Linked DNA regions of Homo sapiens. The protein of the gene in region 1 purifies or fractionates together with the protein of each later gene. This does not show direct contact. Each region holds a gene or a part of one and is shown in the gene's direction. Other genes may lie near its edges. The genes, in order: CHD1 and EPB41L1.

Region 1 (3,819 bases):
GTTCACTGACGTATAACTAAGTGATTAGCAAAACTAGAGTTGTGAGAGAAGTCTATGAAGAATATTTTCCAGAGTGTTTTTGTTTTATAAATATTTCATTTTTAGCATGAGTAAAAGCAACAGTATTTTTGATAGCGAATATAGTTTGGTTGATTTGATCATCTTTGTATTAGGGATAAAACTTGCCATATAAGTACAAATAAAAATACTTTATAAATTTTGTCTGCAGTGAAGATTGGCAAATGTCTGGGTCAGGATCTCCATCTCAGTCTGGTTCAGATTCAGAATCTGAAGAAGAGAGAGAGAAAAGCAGTTGTGATGAAACAGAATCTGATTATGAGCCAAAAAACAAAGTCAAAAGCAGAAAACCTCAAAATAGGTATGGTCTCAGTTTGGTGCTGAAAATTGATTGTGGAAAGTATTTGTTCTTTTTGTATATAGTTTCTCAAATCTTGTTTTTTTTTCTCTTTGCACTTTCCTAGATCTAAGTCAAAAAATGGAAAGAAGATTCTTGGACAAAAAAAGAGACAGATTGATTCATCTGAGGAGGATGATGATGAAGAAGATTATGATAATGATAAAAGAAGTTCTCGTCGCCAAGCAACTGTTAATGTTAGCTATAAGGAGGATGAAGAAATGAAAACAGATTCTGATGACCTACTGGAAGTCTGTGGAGAGGATGTTCCTCAACCTGAGGAAGAGGAATTTGAAACCATAGAAAGATTTATGGATTGTCGGATTGGGAGAAAAGGAGGTAGTTTTTAAAAAACCATTTATTGTTTGGTTATTTAAATAATATTTACAGGAGTAGAGGGCTGGGCACAGTGGGTCGCCCCTGTAATCCCAGTACTTTGGGGGGCCGAGGCCGATGGATCAGGAGTTCTAGACCTGAGGTCAGGAGTTCTAGACCAGCCTGGCCAACGTGGCAAAACCCCATCTCTACTAAAAATAGAAAAGATTAGCTAGGTGAGGTGGTGCGCACCTGTAGTCCCAGCTACTTGGGAAGCCGAGGCAAGGGAATTGCTTGAACCCACGAGGCTGAGGTTGCAGTGAGCTGAGATTGCACGACTGCACTCCAGCCTGGGTGACAGAGCGAAACTCCATCTCAAAAAAAAAAAAAAAAGGTAAAGTATTTAAGATTTTTCTACAGTGTTGAAAGCTAAGAGGGTGGATTTTTTGTTGTTGTTGTTTTACTTATGTTTTATAAAAGCTACTTTGCTTAGCCTGAGTACCTTCTTAATAACCACCTGACCACATTTCTTTTTTCTTTTTTTTTTTTTTTTGTGACAGAATCTCGTTCTGTTGTCCAGGCTGGAGTGCAGTGGCACGGTCTCAGCTCACTGCAAGCTCCGCCTCCCAGGTTCACGCCATTCTCCTGCCTCAGCCTCCCGAGTAGCTGGGACTACAGGTGCCTGCCAGGACACCTGGCTGATTTTTTGTATTTTTAGCAGAGATGGGGTTTCACCGTGTTAGCCAGGATGGTCTTGATCTCCTGACCTCGTGATCCGCCCGCCTCGGCCTCCCAAATTGCTGGGATTACAGGCGTGAGCCACCGTGCTGGGCCTCCAGCTGACCACGTTTCATATATTGTGGATAATTATAGAATAATGCTGTGGGATCTCAGGTGGATCTCTGTCTTTTTATTTTTTCTAATTCGAAAAAGGAGGGGATTATATTAGATAATTCTGAAATTCTCAGTTTTATTTATGAGCAATAGAATTTCCCATAAGTTTCTATACCCCCAATACTTTATTTAAAAGAGTATATATTTTTGTACTCATATTATTGAAATTTTGAGTTGAAATATAATCCTACAACAGAATTAATTACATGGAAGGATCTTGTGCTTTTGTTTTCAGCTACTGGTGCTACTACAACCATCTATGCAGTTGAAGCAGATGGTGACCCAAATGCAGGCTTTGAAAAAAACAAAGAACCAGGAGAGATTCAGTATTTAATTAAATGGAAAGGATGGTCCCATATCCACAACACTTGGGAGACAGAAGAAACCCTCAAGCAGCAGAATGTTAGAGGAATGAAAAAATTGGATAATTATAAGAAAAAAGATCAGGAAACAAAAAGATGGTAAGTATGCTGTATATCATATACTTCTTTTAATAGTTCAAAGATTACTAAACCTTTATGTTAATAAAGAATACATAGTAACATTAAATGATAGCCTAAAATAGCTATAGACTTTATAATACAGTTGGCTGTCTTTGTCCACAGCTTCTCTATCCTTGGTTTCAACCAACCATGGATTGAAAGTATTCGGAGGGAAAAAAAACAACAATAACACAAATTAAAAACAATACCATGTAACAACTATTTGCACTGCATTTACGTTGTAAATGTAAAATTGGGTATTATAAGAACATCTAGAGATGATTTAAAGTATGGGGGAGGATGTGTGTGGGTTATATTTTAGGTACCATGTCATTTCATATAAGGGACTTGAGCATCCTCAGATTCTGGTATCTGTAGAGGATCCTCAACCAATCCCCTGCAGGTAGTGAGGGATGATTTTATTCCATCTCAAGGTAAAACTCCTAGAGGTATACCTATCTAAACCTATCCTTGGTAACAGTCACATAGAGTGTGTCTCATACATTATAAATTACAAATTTTTAGTTAAAAATTAATGATGCTTTATTCCTGTTTGAGTTTCTTTATTACTCAAACTTGGCCCACACAGTGGCAAAATGGGAGATTTTGTGCTACAAATAGTGTTGGGGATGGGGGAGTGAAAGGTTATTTATGGGAGATTTTTAAGTCTATTCCTGGATTAATAATTTTTCAGGTTGAAAAATGCCTCTCCAGAAGATGTGGAATATTATAATTGCCAGCAAGAACTTACAGATGATCTACATAAACAGTATCAAATAGTGGAACGTATAATTGGTTAGTGATAAATGATTCTAGTTAAACTTTCTTTTTATGCTTGAAATAATCTGAAAAAAGTCATAAGTTTGCCACTTACATATCAAACACAGTAGCTTGCTCTTACTAAAACAGTATTGTAAACTAGATAGCTAAATTTTACTTGTGTAGCCTTTACTAAGAATTATGTATCTGATGATTAAATGTAAAAAAAAATAAATAAATAAGTAAATGCCTGATTCTCTCACAGCTCATTCCAATCAAAAGTCAGCAGCTGGTTATCCTGATTATTACTGCAAATGGCAGGGCCTTCCATACTCAGAGTGCAGCTGGGAAGATGGAGCTCTCATTTCCAAAAAGTTTCAAGCATGCATTGATGAGTATTTTAGCAGGAACCAATCAAAAACCACTCCTTTTAAAGATTGCAAAGTGAGTATTGTCTAACATTTTAAATTATTAAAAATATATTTATACATTATAAATATTTACAAGCCTAAATACAAGAGTTGGATCCTGATTTCAGATAGACTAAGGGAGAATATTTCTTGGTTAATAGGTCTTACAGGAAGTGAACTTCTGCAATTGCTGTGTGTTTTTTAGTTTTAGTTTTATAATTTTTTATTTCAAACTTTCTCTTAAAAAAATTGTAAATGATGTTTTCGTCAATGTATCTTCTTAAGTGTTGTCTTTTATCTTGTTGAGCATCACTATGTCAGAAAGATGAGTTGGTTATGGTGATTGTCAGGAAGGGTTGGGAGAATAAACAGAAAAAAACCCTTGGAAACTAGAGATATGCTCAATTTTAAAGATAGTGGATATTTTCTTAGAAGGTAGAGAAAAAGGAGAGTGATATAGGAAAGTATCCAGAACTACCTTGCACAATACTTTCTGCATCCTTGTAACTTACCCAGAGTTACTAGTGATGTGTTGAGATCTATG
Region 2 (3,819 bases), on another chromosome or scaffold:
AACAGTATTTAGACAATTAGTGAAAATCAAGTGAGAGAAGGAGTCAGAAACCATGAGACCGTGAGAGTTGCCCTCAAAGGTCTGCTGCTTCTCCCTTCTCCTGTTCCCTCCTCTCCTCACTGGAGCCTGGGGGAACTGGTCTTGGAGGAGGCCATCTCTCTGTCACCCTCAAAAGGTGGTGATGTCCCAGGGAAAGACCCTTTCTTTCACCCACCCAGTATGGAGCTCTCCTAGGAAATTTTCAAATTCTCTTAGGATGCTCTAAGCTGCTGCTTGGGCTGTGCAGCTGCCCACACCCAGACTGTCCTTGGACAAGCTTTCTACCTTCTCTGTACCTCAGTTTGTCCATCTGTCTGGTGGTGATCAGAGCCATTGCTGCCACTGAGTGTCTTCTATATGTCAAATACTGTGCTAGAGCAAGCTTCATGTGCATTATCTGTTTTTCTATTTTTTCTTTTTATTTTATTCTTCTTATTTTTTTGTTTGTTTGTTTTTTGGGTTTTTTTGTTTTGTTTTTGAGATGGAGTCTTGCTGTGTTGCCCAGGCTGGAGTGCAGTGGCAGGATCTCAGCTCACTGCAACCTCCGCCTCCCCGGTTCAAGCAATTCTCCTGCCTTGGCCTCCCAAGTAGCTGGGATTACAGGCACGTGCCACCTGCCTGGCTAGTTCTTGTATTTTTAGTAGAGACAGGTTATCACTGTGTTGGCCAGGCTGGTCTCGAACTCCTGACCTCAGGTGATCTGCCTGCCTCAGCCTCCCAAAGTGCTGGGATTACAGGCCCAGTCGTTATTCTTGTTTTTTTAAAGACAGCCTGTCACTCTGTCACCCAGGCTGGAGTGCAGTGGCATAGTCACAGCTCACTGTGACCTCAAACTCCCAGGCTCTAGTGATCCTCCTGCCTCAGCCTCCTGAGTAGCTGGGACTACAGGTGCACCCCACCATGCCCGGCTAATTTGGGGGGGGCACAGGGTAAAGACAGTGTCTCGCTCTGTTGCCCAGACTGCTCTCAAACTCCTGGGCTCAAGCAATCCTCCCTCCTTGGCCTTCCAAAGTGCTGAGATTACAGGCGTGAGCCACCACACCCTGCCTATCTCATTTAATTCTCACTATACACCTTGGAGGTGCAGGGGATAGTCTTCTCAATAGAGGTTAAGTAACCTGCCCAAGGTCACCAAGCCTGTGGCATCAGGATTCCAGCTCTGGCTCATAAGCCCATGTCTGTAACTGCTGTTTCCTGCCCACTCTCAACAGTGGCTAATTGGTGAGGTCCAAGCAAAATGATTATAAAAAGATCCTTTAAGTTGTAAAGTGCCCTGCATGTGGGAGGGATTGATACTGCCGTTATTATTTCTACATCCAGAGCAACAGTAGCTTTGGTTATATGGCTTACAGCAAGTTGGAGGTCGTGGGATGTAGCAGCATTGAGTGGGGAGAGCACTGGACTGTGAGCCAGCAGACTTGAGTCCTAGTCCTGGCTCTCCTTGAAACTGACTAGCCATGTGGCCTTGGCCACTAAGCCGCCTGGGAAATAAGCTCACCTACTCCGTGTGGCCCTTGTGCAGCTCAAATAAGATAAAGCCCAAAAGACAGCCAGCATGTTGCCCAGCTCTCGGAGGATACCCTGCTAACGGGAGGTCTCTCTCTGCCTTCTGCATCGTCATCAGGATGGGCCAGGTGGGACGCATGTCTCCGTTTTAATGCTGTTACTCTGCAGTTCTGTGCTGTCACGTGGTCCCCAGCCCACCACTGCACATCAGCCTGAGGCTCCCTAGTGGCCCGTGAAGCTTTTGGGCAAGAAGCCAAGGCTGATGGGTGGTGGCCTTTTCACATTGTTTGGTCTAAAGTGGTGTCCGTGGGTACTGCAAACCTCTGACGAATTGCCGTCTCCCCACTGCCATGTACAAATCCAAGCACCAGACAGGATGACTGCAGACTCAGCTCCCTTTTTGATCCTTCTTGCCTGGCTGTGAAAGTGGCTTGAGGTCTCAGAGGCAGCTCTCTCAGCCTGTACCCTCCATCCTTTCATTCACGTCCATGTAGACATTATCACTCAGGGAAGTGAGTGTTCCATACTGGGGAAGTCCCCTTGGGAAGGAAGTCACATCATCTCCAGCAAGTGAGAGAAAGAATAAGCCCTAATAGGCACTCTTTCTGTTTTTTTTTTTTTTTCTTGTAATTCTTCTTTTTTCTTTTCTGACTCCGAAAGTAATACATGCTCATAGTAGAAAATTGAAAAATACGGAGAAAAAGGCCCCTATTTCCTTCTCCAAGGGAAGGCTATTGTTAACATTTTAGTCTTTGGACTTAATTGGAGAGTAATATTTCTGGAGCAAATATTTCTAATATTCTGGTATGTGTTTAGTGTTTTACAGGCATGATCTGATTCCATTTTCACAGTAAGCCTGTGAGGTATGTAAGTTTATCATCATGACTTTACAGATGAAGAAACTGAGGCACAAAGAGGTTAAGGGGCTTCCTGACGGTTCCCTTGCCTTCCTTGACTTCTTAGCTTATTCTGCCTCTTCTCAGGCTCCCCTTATCCTAAGTGAGCATCAGGTGGTGGATCAGTCAGATTCTGACAGGAAACAGAATTCCACTCAGATGCTTCACCTGAGGAGATGTTAATAAAGATGTGAGCAGGGTGAGGGGAACCCACATGGGATGGTGAGGCACCCACAAACTAACAGTGACAGAAGGCATTACTAGCTCTCGGCCTGAATGAGCAGGAGGGAGTGGTGTTACCTGAGTTCCGTGACTGGTAGAGGTGGGCAGGGAGCTGTCGCAGAGGGGCTCAGCCACCACCAGGACCACAGAGAGAGAAATTGGGGAAGATACACCCAGGATCTCTCTCCTTCCACCTTCTGAATTCCTGCCAGTGCCTTCTTCTTTATTATTTTTTTTTTAAGACAGAGTCTCTGTCGTCCAGGCTAGAGTGCAGTAGCATGATCTTGGCTCACTGCAACTTCCACCTCCCAGGTCTGCCTCAGCCTCCCTAGTAGCTGGGACTACAGGCGCCTGCCACCACACCCAGTTAATTTTTATATTTTTAGTAGAGACAGGGTTTCACCTTGTTGGCCAGGCTGGTCTCAAACTCCTGACCCCAAGTCATCCACCCACCTTGGCCTCCCAAAATGCTGGGATTGCAGGCGTGAGCCACTGTGCCCGGCCCCTGCCAGTGTCTTCTATTGGCCAAATGGAACCAGAAACCAGGAGGCAAGGGAGCTCAAGGGACAGTCCAATGGGCCAGCCTCCTGCTTCTTCAAGCAGGTCATGGATCTGGGGGTGCACATGGAGACTAACAACCCAAGCGACATGGTTGTAGGGAGATGGGAGAGACATGTCCTCTGACTTCCCAGAAAGAGTTGTCTTAGTAACTGACTATTAAAAACATCATTCAAAACAAGAGACTTTTTTTCTGCCTGGGAGTCTCTTGGTGTTTTGGTGTCTCCTCCCTCCCCTGCCCCCCATCTCCTCTCTCACCTGGTTCAGAATTTCCAAGAACACCTGGGCAACAGTCTTTGGTGTCATCGGTGTGCAGGGTTTAGAAGAGACAACCTTGCTTGCATGATACATGTGGCTGTGTGTGTTCTCATGTTGTTTCACTGCTGTGCCTATGCATACAAAGACATGCTTCTTGTGTACATGTCATAAGCATCTATAACATAGTCTCCTCTGTATCCAGCAGAATATTCACTTTTTATTTATTTATTTATCTAATTTTATTTTTTTGAGATGGAGTCTTGCTCTGTCTCCAGGCTGGAGTTCAGTGGCATGATCTCGGCTCATTTCAACCTCTGCTGCCGAGGTTCAAGCAATTCTC

The links.
Region 2: the proteins of CHD1 (region 1) and EPB41L1 purify together in Homo sapiens (co-immunoprecipitation; one large-scale study listed by IntAct). This does not show direct contact.

What each region holds. Positions count from the first base shown.
Region 1 is NC_000005.10:98,897,746-98,901,564, reverse strand, and holds part of CHD1 (chromodomain-helicase-DNA-binding protein 1), read left to right. Parts: intron 1-229; coding exon 230-379; intron 380-482; coding exon 483-754; intron 755-1,859; coding exon 1,860-2,085; intron 2,086-2,800; coding exon 2,801-2,901; intron 2,902-3,130; coding exon 3,131-3,309; intron 3,310-3,819. UniProt on the Homo sapiens protein: ATP-dependent chromatin-remodeling factor which functions as substrate recognition component of the transcription regulatory histone acetylation (HAT) complex SAGA. Regulates polymerase II transcription.
Region 2 is NC_000020.11:36,160,977-36,164,795, forward strand, and holds part of EPB41L1 (band 4.1-like protein 1), read left to right. Parts: intron 1-3,819. UniProt on the Homo sapiens protein: May function to confer stability and plasticity to neuronal membrane via multiple interactions, including the spectrin-actin-based cytoskeleton, integral membrane channels and membrane-associated guanylate kinases.